Homo sapiens: one gene and its partner. The main gene of each other region encodes a partner of the protein of the gene in region 2 in a complex. Each region holds a gene or a part of one and is shown on either strand. Other genes may lie near its edges.

The links.
Region 1: TGFBRAP1 (region 2) and VPS8 share a complex: the UniProt entries of both Homo sapiens proteins name them as parts of the putative class C core vacuole/endosome tethering (CORVET) complex.

The regions. Positions count from the first base shown.
Region 1 is NC_000003.12:184,806,520-184,817,251, forward strand, and holds the start of VPS8 (vacuolar protein sorting-associated protein 8 homolog), read left to right. Parts: upstream 1-5,646; 5' UTR 5,647-5,706; exon of another isoform or gene 5,707-5,767; intron 5,768-5,987; exon of another isoform or gene 5,988-6,270; intron 6,271-7,225; exon of another isoform or gene 7,226-7,348; intron 7,349-9,264; exon of another isoform or gene 9,265-10,362; intron 10,363-10,602; exon of another isoform or gene 10,603-10,732. UniProt on the Homo sapiens protein: Plays a role in vesicle-mediated protein trafficking of the endocytic membrane transport pathway.
Region 2 is NC_000002.12:105,325,498-105,336,511, forward strand, and holds the start of TGFBRAP1 (transforming growth factor-beta receptor-associated protein 1), read right to left. Parts: upstream 4,239-11,014; 5' UTR 4,128-4,238; intron 1-4,127. UniProt on the Homo sapiens protein: Plays a role in the TGF-beta/activin signaling pathway. It associates with inactive heteromeric TGF-beta and activin receptor complexes, mainly through the type II receptor, and is released upon activation of signaling.

The DNA of each region.
Region 1 (10,732 bases), on a different chromosome or scaffold from region 2:
GAACTAGACAAAAGTCTCTGCTCTCATAGTGCTTATGTACTGGTGGGGAAGACAGAAACTTAACAGATAAATAAGTACACATATGGTATGTTGGATGATGACAAGTACTATAGAAAAAAATAAAGCATAGGAGAGTGGTGACAGAATGTGGGGAGGATGAGAGTGGCTAGGGAAGACTTCCCGGAGGTGACTGTGGCAGGAGCCAGCTATACTCCCTAGAATTCTGTGCTCCTCTACACTCCCTGGCCTCTGTCGTAATAAAGCAGGGCTGGGTGGCTGGTGCTGGCCAATGGACTGTGAGCCGAAGGGGCGCATGTCACTTTCAGGCCAAGGCAATTCAGAGTCAGTGGGCTTTCTGCACCCCTCTCTTCTGCCTCAGAGCATTTAGAGGCCATGTGTTTAGAAAACAGTGTCACCAGATGGAAAGAAACTGGGTTCCCGAGAACTGAGTGGAGAAGAGAACTGCTCCTCATCTTCCTTGTATTTATTGCCCTGACTAATGCAGTGACATTTGAGCAAAGCCCTGAAGAAGGTGAGTGAGTGAGCCAAGTGGTTATCTTGAGAGAGGAACACCCCAGGCAGAGGGAACATGAGAGTGACAGCTGGACTAGGTTGAATCACTTACAGAGAACCAATTTTATGCCTCTCCAGCCTGCTTGGACATTTTGACTCAATGAAGTTTGCATATGTATACATGCAAACACAAAACTAAAGACTCCTGATTTTTAGATTAAAAACCCTGTACACCAGGTTTTGGTTTTGGCTTTTAAAATCATTATTATTTTCATTATTATTTATTATTTTTTTGAGACAGAGTCTCGCTCTGTTACCCAGGCTGGAGTGCAGTAGCACGATCTCGACTCACTTCAACCTCCGCCTCCCAGGTTCAAGCGATTCTCCTGCCTCAGCCTCCTGAGTAGCTGGGATTGCAGGTGCCACCACGCCGGGCTAATTTTTGTATTTTTAGTAGAGACGGGCTTTCGCCATGTTGGCCAGGCTGGTCTCAAACTCCTGACCTCAGGTGATCCATCCTCCTTGGCCTACCAAAGTTCTGGGATTACAGGCGTGAGCCACCTCATCCGGCCAAATTATTTTAATAAGCTTGATTCTTTAGAGTGATTTTAGGTTCACAGCAAAATTGAGAGGAAGGTACAGAGACTTCTCATACACTGCCTGCCCCAGGCACAGATGGTCTCCTCCACCAGAGTGCTACATTAGTTACAGCTGATGGACCTGCACTGACACATCATTACATCATTATCATCCACATCTACAGTTTACCTTAGGGTTCATTCTCGGTGTTGTACATTTTGTGGCTTTGGACAAATTTATGATGTTTCCACTATTATAGCATCATACAGAATCATTTCACTGCCCTAAAAGTTCTCTGTGCTCCAACAAGTTCCCTTTTTAAAAAAGGAAAAGAGGCCAGTTTATTTTGTGATTGTGAGCAAAAAAGAAATGACAAAGGCATCCATCTCCTATTCTCTGCCTTTTGCTCTCAGGAACAGACATTTTTTTCCTTCAGAAGAGATGTGGCTTATTCTAGATGCAGGGGTAATAGTGATGTCTGGGTCGAGGTCTGCATCCTTCACTCTTGGGGAGAGCTGGAGGCAATAGAGCCGGTGTAAGGACACCATCCAACTGTGGCAGCCCTCAGTGGCGCCCTCTTCTAGCTCCTGTGCACCCCGCAGGCCAGCCCTCACTGCTTCCCAAGGCTCTGAGAGCTCACATGCAACCTTTTTTCTCATTGGCTTAATTTCTCTTAAGACCACTTCACAAAAGCTCCATTGTAATCACTATCTGCTCAACTGCTTTCTCTTACTTACAAGTTTAGTAAACACAAACATTCTTCTGTCTAGGTCTTACTGACCTGTAGAAAGTTAACTGATGAATGGTACATTTTAAGTCAAAACATACTCTCTGAACCCCAAACATAGTAGAGCTTTTGGTACTCTTTCCAAAAAGAAGAAAATCATTACACTATTCTATATGGAAAAATTCCAATATATAAGCTGATGCAAATTTTGCCTTGCAAAAAAATCTCAATACCTGTGTTTAGATAAGTACAAATGAAACTTTAAGAAATTCCAGTATCACTGTTTCTCAAACTTGGATATCGTTCAGATCCTTTGTAAGGGGAAAAGATTCTCACAGATATCTAGAGTTAGCTTATAATTTTTTATAATGTTGCATACATATATGTGTATGTATATATGCAAACACAAAACTAAGAGCTCCTGATTTTTATAGATTTTATGCATCTATAAAACTAAAAAAATAAATTGAATACAAACAAAACTACCAAATGAGGAAATGCAAATCTACAATTTTGATTTAATATAAGGAATGATATTTTGCTGGAGCCAATATTCACATGAATATTGTAATACTGTGTGATGACTCAATTCTCCCACTACCCTTTGTTAGTGCAGCACACCACAATATAATTTGCCTATAACTTGGTGTGACCACATCATTTATTTTAAACATCATTCTCTGTTTTTTTTTCCTCACAAGTCTGTAACAATTCACTCAGTACTATTTGCAATCACAAATCCAGCAGTGAAACTGCATTCCCAGAATAATTATAAAGGGCTGATAAATTTATATAGATATTCCACTCCAATAGTAATCCCATACAGGTTAAAATGAGAGACCATTTCATCTATCATATTGGCAAATCTTTTTTTTTTTAAGATAAAATAAATGCCAGTGGGGGTGCGTGTGATGGGCACCACTGAGAGCTTCTGGTGAGAATGAAAACTGGCCTGACATTTCTGGAAGGCAGTTTGACCACGGGTATTCACAGACTTAAGAGTTTTCAAAGCCTTTGAATCAGTAATTCCACTTATAGGTTGCTAGCCTAAGGAAGGAAATAATTTTAAAATGTGGGCAAAGATAATGTGTAAGGATATTCATGGCAATGTTCTTGTTAGCAGTAAAAAATAGGAACTCCTGTATATGTCCAAAAATAGTGGAATAATGAAATACATGAAACTATATCATTAATAATTATGTAGCCATGACAAATAATATTTGTGAACAATTTTAGTGATGGTGGATAGTGCTCAAGATATAATAGTGAAAAAAAGAGGATGGATTATTAACTATATATCCTATAAATATATAGAATACACAACTAAATATTCTATGCAGTTCTATTATGTCACAAATGTAAATATACAAAGAAAAAGATCCAACGGATAAGCCAAAACTATAAGTGCCTTTTTCTGGGATGTGGGTAATTTCTGCTTTATTTTAAAATATTTCCTGAATTTTCCAAGTTTTCTACAATAAGCACACATTTTTTTTTATTATTATTAAGGCAAACAGCCCTGGAAAGGATAGCATTTGAGATTACTTCCTGCTGTGAACAGAGGTACATAAAAGGGCTGTTACTTTGGAGAGGTCTCAGAGTCAGTCTGGACCATCCTAAAATATTCTTTATTATAAGTTGAAATCTGCCTCTCTGCAACGTCCATACACAGGTCGTAGGCTTGCTTTCTTTCTACAGCTATTCAGAATAAGTCTATGAGTGTTGCAGAGATATTTCAAAAGGGTCAGTTTTTTAAAGTAATGGCAAAAACCGCAATTACTTGTGTACCAACCTAATAGCTACCTTTCCACTGCTCACCCCTATGACCCTGCTCTCCCCTACTTCTGCTAATTTCTTTTCCTCTGGATACTTTCAAAAGTTCTCTGTCACACAGGCTTTCTGGTCTCACCAGCTTGCTTATCCTTCTGTAGACAGTCTCTAGTTTAATAGCTTTACTAGAAAAATGTGATATTCAGAACCAAAGGCCGGTTTCCAGCCTTCTAAAGCACAGCTATCATCTTGCCACTCCTCTGCTCGAGTTCCTCTGGAGACTCTCACCAGAAGAGCAGAACACCCCAGCTTAGCGTGCAATGTCTTCCTGGATCTGGTCCTAGCCTTTCCAGCCTCATAGCCCACCACATCTCTAATACACACTACACCAGTGTCTTCAAACTATGGGTTGCTCTGCATCACTGAGTACTGAAATGAATTCAGTAACCAGCACTTAAAAAAAGAGAATAGAATAGAAAATACCAAGTTGCATTGTACACTCTAAGGGCAATTACTGTTTCAGCATATCTATCTATCTATCTATCTATCTATCTATCTATCTATAATGCACACTCACACATATGCGCATACTGTGTGTGTTTTTATACTAGGCCATGGCTGAAATGTATCTTTTTTTTTTTTTGAGACGGAGTCTCACTCTGTTACCCAGGCTGGAGTGCAATGGCACAATCTTGGCTCACTGCTGCAACCTCTGCCTCCTGGGTTCAAGCAATTCTCCTGCCTCAGCCTCCCGAGTAGCTGGGACCACAGGTGCATGCCACCACACCTGGCTAATTTTTGTATTTTTAGTAGAGACAGGGTTTCTCCATGTTGGTCAGGCTGGTCTTGAACTCCTGACCACCTGCCTCAGCCTCCCAAAGTGCTGGGATTGCAGGCATGAGTCACCGCACCTGGCCTGAAATGTATTTCTTACTGTGAGGGATGATTAAAAGAAGGTTGAAAGCCACTGGCCACACCACGGCTACATCAGGCCAATAACTAGTTCCCAAACTTGCTTTGTACTGCCTTTGATCCCACCCTTCCCTCAGCTAGGCATTCTCCCTGCTCTCTGCTACTGAAATCCTTCAAGGCCCTGACAAGATACCACATCCTTCCTTGAGTGTTTCACCCTTTCCCCCTGTCTGTGCGAAAATGGTGGTTCAATGTCTTTCTTTATATTACTCAAAACAGCCTGCCTTGTATTTTGTTATGTCTGTACACTGAATTCTTAGAAAATAAATACCTGGAGGACAGGGCAACACCTTCGGGTCTTCTGAAGGCCCAGAAGTCTAGTGAACCTAGCTGATGCTCAAAAATGTCTGCCCAACCGAATATTTTCTGTATCTCCTTCCAAGAGTATCTTCTGGTGTTCTTCCTCCTGTTTTCTTGACCTATATAGCCCCCAGCAGGCCTAAAATCTGTGTCCTGGGGCTAATGTTACGTACAGTGATGACTCTAGAAACCAGTCTGTTCTGAAAGCTTTCACCTTTCTTCAGGAGCGATAAGAGAAATAAGCATACGTTTTTGTTCATTTTTCAGATGTTTCCTTTATTTGAGACTATGTTTCTCCTGTATTTTTGGTGTTAAGATGTATTTTGGGGAGCAACACTGATGATATATTACAAGATAATAGTTGGTATTTTAGTATGTGTGTGCCTATTGTACTTATTTGACACAATAAATAGGCAATTCTGAGTTCATCTTTTAAAAAAAAAAAAAAGTTAAAAAAAATTTACTGGTTGCAAACTCCAAAAGGCAGGGAATCAACTTCCCTTCTGGGCTGGCTGCAAGTAAGTTCACTTTCTTAAAGGAGGAGCTTTCTCCTCTCACCTCAAGGACTGTTATTTATTTGTCTGCGCTACTCTTTCGACGTTTCCATTCTCTTGGTCCTCAAGATGTGAATCACCCATTTTTTCCGTAGGGGGGAAGACGGCGTATCTCTGGCCCTTTAAATAGGGGCGTGGTGAAGAGGCGCGGACCGCCCAGGAGGGGGAGCAGTGCGAGGAGGAAAGCGGAAGCGCTGCCCGCAGTGGTAGGTAGTGCGCGTGCGTGAGGCTAGAGCAGTGGGTGCGGTCACGTGGGCCGGCGGTCCACGGCCGGAATGGCAGCAAGCTCAGGTAACGAGTTTCCAGAGAGCGGGCCCGTGGAAGGAGACAGGATTGAGGGGCCGTATTCAGGGTAGGAGGAGAGCGCGCGACAGGTCTCTGAGCCTCGGCGTCTCCTCCCCGCGCGACAGCGGCGGGACCTCGGGGAGCGAACAGAGCAGCCCCTGACGGGCTAACCGGACCCGAGCCACGGGCCGGGCGGGGTTGATTCTCGAGTGGAGGGGCGTGTCGTACGTTGGCCCGGAACTGGGTCGGGCAATTTCCACTTACTGGTTCCAAATGAATGTGAAAATTCAAATGGGCTTAAGTAAAAAGGGATTTATTGGCTCCAAACCTGGAAGGGGCTGAGGTATCACTAAATCCAGTGACTCCGGTGATGTATTTGTGTATCTCTCCCTTTCTGCAAAGGGCCAGTAACCCCTCAGTTCCCTATCTACTTTGCGACTATAATTGCAAGCCTCATTCTGTCCTGTTACAGTCGTGCGGCAATTAGGCTGAGGGACTGGCGCGCCCGCTCCCCCGACTGTGAGCCTAGGCGGCGGGTGTCATGCCCCTCCCCACTCCCGGGCGGAACAGGTGTGTAGCCGGTCTGTCGGGCCTGGGAAACAGGTGTGGACCCCTTTAGCCTCCAGGGACTGATATCAAGGTGCCTGAGCCTGAGGCTTAGATGGGGTGTCCACCTCTTAGGATCGGTGCGCACCCTGTGAGGCTGGTTCCAGTTTGTCTCCGCGTGCAAGTTGTGCACCAGAGTGAGGGCAGCAGGGTGAAAGGTGGGCCTCTGAAGTTCGAGGCTACTCCTGTGCCTTGGCCAGTTCTTTGTGCTTGGCATCTGGGGAAGGAGGGAAACAGCTGCTCAGAGTGTCTGGGTGTACAAAATGGGGGTGCTTTACAGGAGGATAGGGTGGGAGGAGGTAGGATCGGTGAGAGGTTCCATGGCCGTGGGTTATCAGGAATAGCTAGCTGGGGAGCCTTCTTTAAATAAGCAGGCCCCCTCCACTTCTTAGATTCTTGTTAGAATGAATAGGAAGGCTTCTGGCCTCTGCACCATCCACCCTCTACCATACTCTACTTTCCCCTACTGAAAAACCCCAAAACCCAAGCAAAACAAGCATGGATGTTAGCTTGTGGTGCTAAACCTTACTCCAAATGTCTGCATTTGGGAGACAATTACATGTTAATTGTCTGTGTATGTCTATGTCTGCCTGTGTGGGTTTGAGGTATATCTAATATAAATGTGGATGGAGAATCTGCATATGTTTGTGTAAGACGTGGGTTTGCTCATGGTTAAATTTAAGCACAGAATAGGTATTGAATCCTCTGGCAATAGCTGGCCTGTTCCATAGAATATGCAATAAAGATAAATGGAAAAAAAATTCGTTGAACTACTGGGCTTTATATGGTCAAAGAGGCATTTGTGAGAAAATTCTTTCCAGAGCTCTAACAGAGTAATATGTTGATTTTTTCTTTATATTTAATATATTTGCTTCGTATCTGGACCATTGTCAGCAGATGGATGTTTTCTGTCTTCCAGAATATTGGGACATGTTGGTGATTCTTAGCTGTATCTCACTATTCCATTGACATTTCAACCAGTGTGACACAAAATGTCAGTTATGTATGTGAATGAGAAGTAAGATCTTTTGAATTTAATGAAGTATGTTTAACTTTGGATCTATTGATAGCTTTCATAGAGTTTAGATCGTATGTTCTCTTGATCCACAGCTGTAGGTGTCATCGGTACATAGTGGTAAGATCAAACTGTTGTATTCTTAACTGAATCTTGAATGAATATTTGACTTATCTTCACGCTGTATGACATTATTAAATGTGTTCTGTGTTTTAGCAAGGAAATATAGCTTTGCGTTGGATTTTTCACTGTTATGAATTTCTTAGGTTTACTGTAATAGCAATTATACTTTTTTAGTCAAAGATATTTCTGTTGCAAGTGACAGAAAATTCAAATGGGCTTAAGCTAAAAGGGATTTATTGGCTCCAAACCTGGAAGGGGCTGGGGTATCACTATATCACTAAATCCAGTGACTCCAGTGATGGAGTACTTGTGTCTCTCTCCCTTTCTGCAAAGGACCAGTAACCCCCAGTTCCCTATCTCCTCTGCAACTGTAATTGCAAGCCTCATTCTTCCTGTTACAGTCATGGGACAGTTAGGGGATATGTTCTGAGAAATGTGTGGTTAGGCAAATTTTGTCATTGTGCATGCATCATAGTGTACTTACACAAACCTAGATGGTGTAGTCTGCTACACACCTAGACTATGTGGGATGGCCTGTTGCTGCTAGGCTATAAACCAGCACAGCATGTTACTGTACTGAATACTGTAGGTGGTTGTAACACAATGGCCAAGTATTTGTATATCTAAACATAGAAAAGGTACAGTAAAAATACAGTTTAAAAGATTGAAAAATGTGAACCTGTGTGGGGCACTTACCATGGATGGAGTTTGCAGGACTGGAAGTTGCTGTGGGTGAGGCAGTGAGTAGTGAGTGAGTGTGAAGGCCTAGGACATTATTGTACACTACTGTAGACTTTTTGAACACTGTACACTTAGGCTACACTGAATTTATTAAAAATTTTTTCTTTCTCCAATAATAAATTAACCTTAGCTTACTGTAATGTAACTTTTATGTTATAAACTTTTTAATTTAAAAAAGTTTTTAACTTCTTTGTGATAAAACTTAGCTTAAAATACAAACACATTGTACAATTAGCTGTACAAAAATATTTTCTTTATATCCTTATTCTGTTAGCTTTTTTCTATTTCAAAAAATTTTAATCTTTAAAAACGAAGACGCAAACACACACATTACTCTAGGCCTACACAGAGTCAGGAAGGTCCCGGTGGAATGTCTTTAGAGGCAGTAACACATAGGGAACTGTCATCTCTTATGATAACAGTGCCTTCTGGAATACCTCCTGAAGGACCTGCCTGAAACTGTTTTACAGCTAATTTTTAAATTTTTAAATAAGTGGATGAGTACACTCTAAAGATAAAAAGTATAGGATAGCAAATACATAAACTGGCACATAGTTTATTATCAAGTATTATGTACTGCACATAATTGTATGTGCTTAGCTTTTATACTACTGGCAGTGCGGTAGGTCTGTTTACATCAGCATCACCACAGACAGATGAGTAATGCATTCATTACAACAGCTGTGACATCACTGGGCTACAGGCATTTTTCTGCTCCATTATGTGTAATGTTAGGGGACCATGGTTGTATATGTGGTCTGTCGTTGACCCAAAACGTCTTTTTGGGGCACATGACTGTATATAAATGCATAAAAGATGTGACTGCAGATGACTCCTGTGTTATGCCATCCAAGATTAAGCACCCTAGAATAAAGAGAAATTCCAGAAGTACCTTGATTGGCCACATAGGACCCAAGAATGTGATGTGCCTACTCTTCTGCTCCGCTAGCTAGGCAGATAGGGTACTTGATTGGCAGCACCACCAAAATCACATGGTTGGAATGGAGGAGAAGCAGTTGCCCTCCAGGAAAGGTGGCAGTGGTGCTGGGGTGTTTTAACCTTTGTTTTTTCCGTTGCAGTTCAGCAAGACGCTTCCAGTTACTTCCTGCTCTTAAAAAAAAAAAAAAAAAAAGAATAAATCTCTCATGACTCTATATCCTTCTTGACACCTAACCAAGAGAAATTGAGATGACAGTTAATTGCAAATTAATAAAGAAGGCCATCATCTACTCAGCCTTTACCTAAGTGGAATCCTGTCTTTTGCGCATTTAACTTACAAGAATTTACCTGCATCAGTCAGTTATGTGAAGAAGAAAAGGGAATATATTTCAGCGTACACAAGGCCCTTGTGCTTTTTAGGAGGAGTTCTTTGGAGCTGAAGTGGGTCTGAGAAGAGACATTCTCATGATAGTGGAGACAGTATTATAGAAGCTGGAAGTGATCATTTTTCTCTGTTATTTATTTCACTTATTACCTCACACACATATTGATATAAAACTGATCAATAAAGTTAGAATTTCTACATTATCTAGATATTTGTAGACTTCGTTCATATTATTGTTTTGTATATTGTGATAGGGGATTAGATTTTTCTTTTCTAGGCTGGAGCTGATTGTCTGACAATTCATAGCAGTAACTTAGCACTCACTGTATACAGGAAGGTCTTAGGCACTGTTCCTTCCCCTTACTTTTCTTTTTAACATTTTTTAATCTGTATGTACTTATGATCACTCTCCTCATTTAGACATTCACCAACAACAGAAAGAGAAACAGAGGGTTGGGCTTTTTCGTCGTGGCAGTTCTGGCACTGTGAGCTACAATTACCTAAATGTGCCTTCTTGGAAAGAAATTCCAGGGTCAAGTAAAGCAGCCCATCCCAGTATATAGTAATGTTTCTCTAAATAGGGTCTGTATCTAAATGAATAAGGTGAAAATTGAGTACCCTCAAAGTACCCCAAGAGGGAGTCATATCAGAGACTGACAAGCGGTGGGTCTCTCAGGAAGCCCCATACGGCCAGATCTTGTTTTTCCATGTTGGAACTGCATGGCGTTTGTTATTTTGAGCACAGGTGACGTGAACTGCTTGGGTGTGAGGCATGTGAGAACTGAGACATAGAACAGCAGCTGACCATCTCCTATTCTGTGCCCACTGTGAAGCAAGAAGTTATTGAGTGGAGGTATGCAGAATCATGAATCATGATTCATAGAATCATCTATATGAATCATTTCTTTCTCTCCTTCCCGTTGCTGAAGATAATAGATGAAATCCTGCAAATTGAATGGAAGTATGGTACATTTCCACTGTATTCATCTTGGCCTCTAAGCTGAATTAACGTAAAAGAACATAAAACATCTGAGATTGTGGGATTTGCATCATGTTATAAATGAGCTAAGTGATTTAAAAATATCTCTCCTAGATGCAAAGAATGGAACTTGCACAGATGGAGGCGTTTTGGAGTAGTGTAACTAACCATACTTTGTATTACGTGACCAGAACTGCTATTTGAGATTCTGGAAGCCAGTGATGCAGTCTTGCTTGGGTATTTA
Region 2 (11,014 bases):
AACAAGTATGATTTCAGATCCTCTCCTAGAATTCAGTTCTGAACAAAGCAACAACTCTCAGCAGGAGGCCACTATGGTACTTAGAGTGGCATGCTGCTGCAGTTCCTGAGGAGTCTTTGCTATTGCTTCCCCACCGTGAGTCTAGAAGAGGAATCCTGTGGCTCTATCTGCTTGCTGAAATTCAGACACAGAATAGTATGTTGACACAGTTCTCTACTAACATAGTAATCTACCAAAACAGGATACACATTTATGTGACAGCAACTGCTTTTCCTGAGCTGCACCCCATGCTGGTCCCGTGTTCTTCTCTAAGTCCCACAGCCATCTGTTGAATGACTCAATCTTGAAATTTGTCAGGAATCAACAATAAATTTACTGGCTTGTACAAAAGTCAACTTTTCCCCCCTTTGAAAATGAAGATACTGCTTGACAACCATTTTATGTTATCTTTTGCACTCATGCAACAGAGACAGCAAGATTAGTTATAGTGCAATGAACCTGCTCTGATAATCTGCAAGAGTATCTAAAAAAAGAGGATTAAAAAAAGACAGTTAAGGTCTAATATCTAACTTGTCATCTTAATATTATCATGATGTATATTTAATATATGTAACTATTCATAGTTGGTATCCTTTTTACTGGGCAATACTAATCAAAATTATTTAAATACATATAAACATATATTTATATACACACACATATATACACATACTATATATGGTGTGTGTATACATACATATGCATAAGGGTGTATGTGTGTGTGTATGTACATATATATAATATACATCCTATAAGAGTACCATCAGCAGTTAGAATTAAAAGGGTTTAGGAAGAGAAGTGGGAGGTAGAAGAAGAGCAGAATAGAAATATGGCATTTACTTCATAACATCTTCCTCAATACTGAACCTTCAAACAGCCACAAAAAATTATCGAGTACTGGCCAGGAGCAGTGGCTCATGCCTATAATCCCAGCACTTCGGGAGGCCGAGGCAGATGGATTGCTTGAGCTTAGGAGTTCAAAACCAACCTGGGCAACATGGTGAAACTCTGTCTCTATAGAAGAATACAAAAATTAGCCGGGCATGGTGGCATGTGCCTATAGCCCCAACTACTTGGGAGGCTAAAGTGGAAGGATCACTTGAGCCTGGAAGATGGAGGTTGCAGTGAGCCGAGAACACGACACTGTACTGTAGCCTGGGTGACAGGGTGAGACCCTGTCTCAAAAAAAGAAAAAAAAAATTATTGAGTACCTACAGGACTTGATAGTCCATAATATCCAGTCAGTTGTCATCTTTAAATATGTGATTTTTTCCTTAAATCTTTAACTTTTTCAACAGCAGTTACTTGACTATCAAGAAAAGATCTTGATTTCAAATCATCTGCAAGATTTCATAATTCACTTTTCATGAGGCACTTAAAGTCATTTGGGGTAGCACCAAATTAAGTTGTTACTCTACATTCATTTAGTAGGTATTTATTTTTTTAAATAAAGAAAAACGAGTCAGGTTTGCTACAGAGATGAGTTGTAAAGTCTGAGCCAAATTATTCGGCAGTATCCAAACACCTGGCTGCCACAAATGACTACTTTAATGTATTTCTAATGAGGGCTGGATTCAGACCAAGATGAAGACACTTAACCCATTAAGTAAAATTTCTTCAAGTTTTCTTAAAAGATCACAAATTTGTAATATTAGCATGAAGGAATAAGCCAAATAACTTCATTTTTTTTTTCCTAACAGAAATGTTAGCTGCATATCAGACCCAGAAAATACAGCAAGTTTTTTGGCTGGGCGCAGCGGCTCAGGTCTGTAATCCCAGCACTTTGGGAGGCCAAGACAGGAGGATTGCTTGAGGCCAGGAGTTTGAGAACAGCCTGGGCAACACAGGGAGACCCCTATCTCTACAAAAAAAATTTTTTAAATTATCTGGGTGTGGTAGTGCGAGCCTGTGGTCCCAGCTACTTGAGAGGCTGAGGTGGGAGGATCCCTTGAGTCTGGGAGATCAAGACTGCAGTGAGCCATGGTCACACCACTGCACTCCAGCCTGGGTGACAGAGCAAGACCCTGTCTCAAAAACAACAGCAAAAAAACCACCCAGAAGACAACAACAAAAAGAAAATATAGCATTTTTAAAATAGTGAGCTCTATGCTTTTAAAACTCCTCAACTGGAGCTGCCTAAATGAAGAATGGGCCCTTTACAAATCCCTGTCTCTGGAGGGTTTAAGCTGAGGTTAGATTGGTCCTGGGATTCCTGCAGTGGTGAAAACGCTCTGCCTCCAATGCTATGACAAGAGGACTGCCATGCACAATCATGAGTGTAGAAGAAAAGGCAGAGTGAATGAAGGCTAACAGTGGCACCTCACCTCTCACCCAATTCAATTGTGTAATGCAAACCTTGATGCACATAGCAAATTGGAATTCAGAACCCACAAGTCTAACTCCAGAGTAAATCATTTGTTAGGTTAACAATTACTCAAAACATAAAACTACATATTTTCAGAGCTGAGGGAGACCTGGCTCTACATCCTCATTTATATTTGTCAGCAATAATTTATTGAGCACCTACTAAATGCCAGACCCTGTGCCGGATCCTTTCCAGGCACAATTTCTTATTAGAATTCATGTGCCTTTTCTAATATTATCCCTATTTTGATGGAGGAATTTGAGACTCAGAATGTCCAGCAAATTGCCCAAAGGTCACAGGAAATGGCAGAGGCAGGATTTGAACCCACACTCCACATTCATTACCACCACAGAGCATCACTCCCATTTCATAGATGACCTGGGGCAGGCTAGTTATGGACAGGTTCCAGCAGATTCCAGCCAGTAGACTTTCTAGTACTCCAGGCAGCGTTTTGCTACACATCACAGAAGCAGCTGCAATGACTGTTGAGGCTGCTCGGCTGGCAGAAATGGAAGGAAAAAGAAAAGGAAGCAGCTGACCAAATGTTCCTTCTGACTGACCATGGAACTGCGAGCTCTCAGTTGTCTGCCAGCTTCCGGCTGACCAACAGAGAGAAGCATGTCCACCATGAGAGAGTAGCAGCCACCACACAGTCCCTCTACATTCGTTCATCCTGACTCCAACCAAGCCAACACACACAACGCAGTAGGATCTTCCCTGCACACCTTCTCAGTGCCTTAACTTGCCACCACAATCACACCCGCAGCTGCCTTCCTTCCTGATAGACAAGGTGCTTGCCCATGAGCACTTCATCAGTGATTAAACTCTGCTCAGACATGTTTTGACCACAGCTGCGCGTGCAGTCCACGTGCAGTAAGGCCTGCTGTGTGATCTGTGAGCCCCCATTTTTAGCAGCCAGGTAGGAGGCTTCCTGAGGGTCACTCAACAGTCCTTGGGTAGAAGCCACGGCAGGTGCAGACAACCGGACAGCTTCCGTGTTTAAGGATATCAACACTTAACACAGGGAGGCAGGCGGACTAACTTGCACCTGCACCTCCAGAAGGCAATGGAAAGAAAACAATTCCACAGGGATGACAGCTTCCAGCCCTTGACCTGGTGCTAAAAACAGGGGCCAGGAAGCCCAGCACAGCACTTTTCCCTACTCCCCAACACACCCCTGCCTACTCTCCAGATCAGGACAATTCAGGCCTGAGTGTGACCCGAATTTGAGCTCTCAAATCCAAAGAGCTCCCAGAAACCTCAATCACAGCGCCAAAACCATTCCATACCAGGGATGGAGGTGCAAGTCCTTCCTGGCCCTTCTCCCCGGAAAACCCAAATCAAGGACGAGGTCTCTCAGGTCTTCCCTTGCCCTAAACACACACGCACTCCTCACACACAACATACACACTTGACCCCACACCCGTGCACACTTCATCCCACACACACGTGAACACTTATTTGCTCACCCCAGCAGGCTAGCCGGCCCCCACAAGGGACAGCTACCAAGTCGCACACCCGCACACCTGCCCCCAAGTGTATAGCCACTTGCTCCCCCCACCCCGCGTTCCAGCCCCCACTACACCTGCCCCAGCGCACACGCACGGGCTCGCCCTCCACCCCGCCCCGCCGCCTACCCCCCACTCCTGCTCCCCGCCCTCCTGCCCCACGCGCCCCGCGCCCTGAGCCCCGCACCCCGCGCCCCGCCGCCCTCCTCACTCACCGGCGCCGGCGCCCGCCGTCCCGCGCCGCCCCGCGGCCTGGGGCCCCGCCGCCCCGCTCCGGCCCGCGGCTCCTGGGCTGGCCCGACCCCGCAGCCGCCGCTTCCCGTCACGTGGGGCGGCCGCCAGGCGCTGGCGGAGGGCGGGAGCGCAGCCGTCTCCGCGCCGCCCGCCGGCCCGCGGGCCCTGCCGCCTGGCTCCGAGCACAGGCCGAGACGGGCCCTGCTCCGGGCCTCGGCGTCCCCCTCCGTGCACCGGGGCCACGACACGGCCCGCCTCGCGGGGCGGCCAGCGGGCGGAAGGTGTTCATTCGGGGGGCGCTGAGGCCGCCGGCCCCGGGCGAGAGCGTGGTCCGCGCCAGCTGTGCGAGCCCGCGGGGCTGAGGTCTCTTCTCCGCCCCCGCCGCTGCGGGGAGCTTCAGGGAAGCCGGGCTTTGCCTGGCTCGCTCGCCACCCAGTTTCTGTCACCTACACAGGAGGAGGGCGCCCGGGAAATACCTGCTGCGTGAATGAATAAATGAATGAAATGCTTGGGCCCTGGGAAATGCTTGGGCCCGCGGCCGCCTGACCACGCGGGCTGGAGGATCGGACGTACCGCCGGTGCCCCACCAGGAGACGAAGGCATGGTTGGGATGCGCAGCCCTCCCACGAGGCCCATGGCGCCCCAGGGCCCTAGGGATTGACCGGGACCCCCGACTGGCAGAGTCCACCTGCTTGATACACTTATTTGAGAAGGGAGGCCTGGGACTATCTTACTCCTTTTAGGAAAACCCAACTGTAGCTGCTATTCCTTTGGTTCAGGCCGCAAGGAAGAATTGTAGGTTACCATGAATCCATGAACCCCTCTTTAGTATACAAAGTCCACTTTCATGACGGAAGAATTGGAAAGCTCCCTCCAGAGTTGTCAGTACTCAATTATTAGCATATAAAAAGTCAAATTTTCCCAGGGATTTTCAGACTTTAGAACCTGCTAGTGACCTGTGGCCTCAGCTTTCTTCCAGCCACTCTGAGTATTGTAAAACAAAGATATTATCCCAACCCTGAAGGCAGATACCAGATTGTACGCCATGGTCTTCTGTTTCAAAGGGATAAAAAAAGAAAGAAAAGAAACTGGCCAAAAAAAAAAAAAAAAAAAAAAAACCCAACAATCTTCCTGTGACTTGCCCTCTACCCCTACCCTAGTGTGACTCATGGCCACATAAATGCCCCATCCCCAGTGGTGCTTCAGCTGTGACCCAGTGGAACCAGTGTCACCGGCTCAGCCTCCAGGTAGGGGACTGGCTTCCCAGGAGTGTAAAGCTCTGACCAGCAATTGAGCTTCAAGGGCAAGCAGCAGTGAATGGACCTTCAAGTCTAAGGTGGCCAACAGCTAGTGGAGCCAGGGATTGGGAAGGTACAAGAGCAAATCCAGTCTCTTCATTTTACCCAGGCTCACAGAGACTATGTGACTTGTCATCAACTAATCACTGGCTCAGGTGGTCCTAGAATTCACCCTTGTGCTTTTGTATCTTAGTCCTCTACCAGATCACATCACAGAGAGCTGCACAAGACTAGTTACAGAGGTGATATCTACTGACTGCCAGACAGTGACTTCAGAAACTGCTAGTGACTGAGCAATGAAGTAGACGCTATTAATTTACTTAATAGCGTCAAAGAATAAATTTAATTCTTTGAGGCAAAGAAAGGTGAATGACTTCCTGTGTTAATTCACTTAGGAAAATATAAATAAAAAAATTTAAAAAGGTGACTTGTCCCAAACCCCATGCTAGTAAGAAAGAGCAACAATAAGAATCCAGAATTCAGCAACAGTAATTCTTTTTATATAAAGTTGTTTTGAATGAATAGTTTATGAACAATCTTTGTGTTCTACTTTAGATGATCCAGGAGTGAAAATGTATAACAAGAGATAATTCAGATATATTTATTTTATGAAAGGATTTATTACAGGATTCTTACAATGGCAAGCTCCATATTATTCCATCTAGAAACATCTGTTCCTTCTGAAACTTGATGAGAAGTCTGTGTCACAAATGACAGGCACCTCCATGTAAATGCCTGTACCATAAATGTGCAAATATATGCACAGGCCAAATTCCTTATGTTGTTTCTATTGGTTACATTTAAGAAGAAATATCAACCATATGGCTTTCAAAACAATTATTAACTTCATTTTTAAATATTTATTAAATATTCCTTGGGCCCATACCGAGCGTTACTTTACAGAATGTGAAAAAGATGTGCTCCGATGAGAACAATTAATGAAGACTGAGTTGCATCGATATAACTGAATATTTTCATAGTTGCTGTCTACTCTCAAAACTTAGTATTTTTATGCTTACACATACTCTGTGCTTCTCACTTTCTCGCTGGGTATACGCTTGGGAGGGCAAGGATTGTGTCTATGCTCTCTGCTGTATCTTTCTGCATGTAGAAAACACTCAACCAATTTTTAAAAATTCTTGATGCTCAATATTGAAATATTAACTAGATTACTTTTTTTTTTTTTTTTTAGACAGTCTCTTTTGCCCAGGCTGGAGTGCAGTGGTACAATCTTCTCAGCTCACTGCAACCTCTACCTCCCAGGTTCAAGCAATTCTCCTGCCTCAGCCTCCTAAGTATCTGCGACTACAGGCATGCACCACCACGCAGGGCTAATTTTTGTATTTTTAGTAGAGACAGGGTTTTACCATATTGAACAGGTTGGTCTTGAACTCCTGACCTCAAGTGATCCACCCACCTCGGCTTCCCAAGGTGCTGGGATTACAGGCATGAGCAACCACATCCAGCCTTTAGTACTAAGATTCCATTATTCTAATATATAAGCTATTTAAGAGCACACATGTAGGATGGTTGGTGTCATTTTAGAATATAAGCAAAGAAAGGTTACATTTTTTATTTTTTTTAAAGCAACAGCTTACTATGTGCCATGTTTTAAGAGCTTTTACATGTAATAGCTCATTTAATCACATATACACACACATTCATATACTTGTAATCTAGCTTCAGTAAAATAAACTTTTTTGAACTATTGTTCAATCAACTACTTCTTTAGCAGCTCCTATGTGCCAGGTACTATGCCAGAGGCTTCAGCAGATACTGAAATGAGGAAGACAGTCTCTACCCTCAAGAGTTTAATGGGCAATGGTTTATAAGGTAGAGTTGGTAGCCAGCAGTATCAACATCACCTCTGGACTTGTTAGAAATGCAAATTTTGGTGTCCCCATCCCAAACCTCCTAAATCAGAAACTCTGGGGTTAGGACCCAGCAAACTATTTTTACAACCCCTCCAGAGGATTCTAATGGGCACACAATTTTGAGGACCACTGGATTAGTGTGGTATGTGCAAGAAAAACCCACCTAACGAGATCATAAGGCAAAAAATAATGTGCTCTAGAAGTTTGGTGATAGTGGAGCTCAGTTGGGAAGTATCTGAGGATGGGGAAAGGTTCATTCATCTGTATTCATTCAGCACACACTTACTGTTCTTGTGCTGTTGTAGCAGGCACTGAGAACCCAAAGATGAAAGGTAACCTATGAGTGCTGTCATCATCTGAATGTGTACCTCCAAAATTTGTATGTTGAAACCTAACCCTCAAGGTGATGGTATTTGGAAGTGGGGCCTCTAGGAGGTAATTCTATCATAAGTGTGGAAACTTCATGAATTATTGCCCTTATAAAAGAAGCCTAAGAGAGCCTGTTGCCCCATCCACCATGTGAGGACACAACGAGAAGGTGCCATCTCTGATGAATGGATCTTCACTACACACAATCTGCCAGCACCTTGATCTTGGACTTCCCAGCCTCCAGAATTGAGAGAAATGCATTCTGTTGTTTATAAACTACTCAGTGTATGGTATTTTGTTATAACAACTTGAAATGACTAAGACAATGGATTTAAAAGCAAGCTAGTAGTTTAACTGTTCTAAATAGCTAACAACACAGGTCCAAAATGTGAAATGTTGCTTAAATTATTACCTTCACATTGAAGCTCCTTTATGCTCATGTGTATGTATATACTATATATATACATTTTTTTTTTTGAGGCGTCTTGCTCTGTCCCCTAGAGTGCAGTGGTGCGATCTTGGTTCACTGCAACCTCTACCTCCCGGGTTCAAGCGATTCTCCTGCCTCAGCCTCCTGAGTAGCTGGGATTACAGTCACCCACAACCATGCCCAGTTAACTTTTGTTTTTTTTTAGTGGAGATGGGGTTTTACCATGTTGGCCAGTCTGGTCTCGAACTCCTGACCTCAAGTGATCCACCCACCTCAGCCTCCTAAAGGGCTGGGATTACAAGTGTGAGCCACCACGCCCAGCCTGTTCAAGTATATTTTTGATACAATATTTTGATACAATATTTATAACATATTTATAACATATCTTAACTATTACATTATCAACAAGAATCAACACCAAGAGTCCTCAGTATATATTTTGTTCATCATGCATTCATTCCACAAACATTTACTGAGCACTTACTAAGTACAAGCACTGTGCAGGCTAATGGCTAAGTGAGGGATTCTAAGAAAATGTACGGACCCTGTCCCAGAGGAACTCACAATCTAGTGAGGTGACAATGCCAGGCATTGCAGTGTTTGTTGGTTCCCCACAGCTTTGTTCTTGTCAACTATAGTCACCAAATAAAAATGTTAGTGAATAAAACCTCAGGATCTTTGAGTGAAGCAACAATCCTTATAGTTAGCTTAAAATGTTGAGTGCGTTATGGTTACAGATGATAGTGTAGCGGGAGTAACCTTAGGCCTGCAAACTCAAATGTGTAACAAAGATAATTTTTTTTTCTGTAACTGAAATGTATTTCTATTTGAAGCCTCCATTTACCTGCAGTGACAATAATCTTATCAACAGGAGGCCCTCCTCCTTTCTTTCAATTTGAAACCTCCATTTATCTGCAGTGATATTCTTATCAACGGGAGGCCCGGCCCTTTCTCCAGGGCTTTGTCAAGATTGGGGAGACTTCTGAAGTGCCAAGATGAGAAGAGAGAGACCTTAGGTCCTTGTGTCACTGGTCCCCACACAAGTTCAGAGATGTTCTTTGTCCACTGTAGTGTTGGTTTTCAGTCTTTTGGTTTCAGGCTTGAGGGTTAGAGATGTCTGTGACTTCAATTCCCATGTGGTATGGCAGAATTCTCTGTGAGGCAGCCCTTCTGCCTGGACATACTTGAAGCATCACCTCAGAACTTGTTAGAAATGCAAATTATAAGGCCTCCCCATCAACCTCCTAAATCAGAAAGTCAGCAGACTGCAAATTCTCCAATGTTCCATGCTACAAATGTTCTGCCCAGGAAGGAGTGGGCAGGCATCACCACTCTCTCCTTCCCTTGGAGGAGAGACGGTATGTGAATCTCATTCTAGTTCCTCCTCTCTTAATCTTGATTTTTTTTCCTCAGATGACAATCCTTCCATCTCAAGAGTTCTGCTTCAGAGTCACCTAGAATAATATTAATAGAATTAGTTATAAGCAAGGAAGTACTCTTAGTTTTAAACTGGGAAGTACTGGAAGAAAAAAAAGACATCTTACCTGCCACAAAACATTTTTGCAGATGAAGTTTAAGGCTTCAGGTTAGGCGATGGGTTCAGAAAACCACAGAGAGGAAAAGCATAGCAAGAACCTGTAACCACTTTTTCAGACTATTAAACTCAAGGTTCTTCCCACTTATGCCATCATCCTGCCACTTTTTTCCTTTGATGACAATCAATAGGATACAAGAACTCTCCAAGGAGAGCCCACAGAGGAGGCATTTTACACACTTGAGCTCCAATCCTCACAACACTGTGAGATGGCTTATAATTTCCATCTCAGAAGGGAGGAAGCTACAGCTAAAGAGAGAATGTATGTCCTAGGTGAGTAAAGAAGCCAAGGTTATAATACAACTGAGCTACTCCAAAGCCTGCCCTTTTCTCTAAACTGCCTTCTATGACCCATAACTTTGTAAAAATCAGCTACCAGTTCTTAAACACTTACTGTGTCAAGTGTGTTTATAATCTCCATAATCTCCACTCCTTTGATCATTCTTCACAGAAAGTGCTAACACAGCATTTTCCTGATGAGGGGACTGAGGCTGAGAAACTAACTCACCCAAGGTTTTGGTGCAACAAGAGTAAAACTTGAAATGAAGTCAGGTTTCTAGCCCCGGATTCTCCCAAGGTAGCTGCTTTTGATACTAAAACAATGTGCCTCCCGGTGAAGGAAATGGGGATAATACTAATCACACTTATTTCTCTATTGTAATGAAAATCAAATCAGATTTGAGAGATATGGAATATGATGATGTTAATACTATGACGCTAATACATTTAACTCCAATTTAAGACATTCAGACGCCTGCCTCAGCTCAGATTTAAGACTATTCAATTTTGGGCAAGTCATTTAATCTCTTTCTGATCAGCTTTCTTGGCACTAACATGAAAGAACTGGACTAACTTTTAAGTTCCCTCCCAGCTCTGAAATTCAGTTTCTAGACATAAAGTATTACATACATAAATGAGTAAGAAAAATTGGGAAACACTTCTCAGCTTTATCTTTTTGAGGAGCTCACTTCTAGTACTCTTTCACGGTTTATCTTTTGGCATCTTCAGAGTTCTTCATATTTTTGTAGACAATGCAATAATTTCCAATAAAATGATACCTCATAGAGGATGCATACAATAAACATTCAGAACATACCTGCAAGTTTTATTTTTTATTTATTTTTTCAGACATGGTCCCATTCTGCCGCTCAGGCTGAAGTGCAGTGTGGTAATCCTAACTGCAGGCTGGAATTGCTGGGCGCCAGTGATCCTACCACCTCAGCCTCCCGAGTAGCTAGTACTACAGAGACACTACCATGCCCGGTTAATTTTTTTTTTATTTTTTGTAGATACGGGGTCTTAC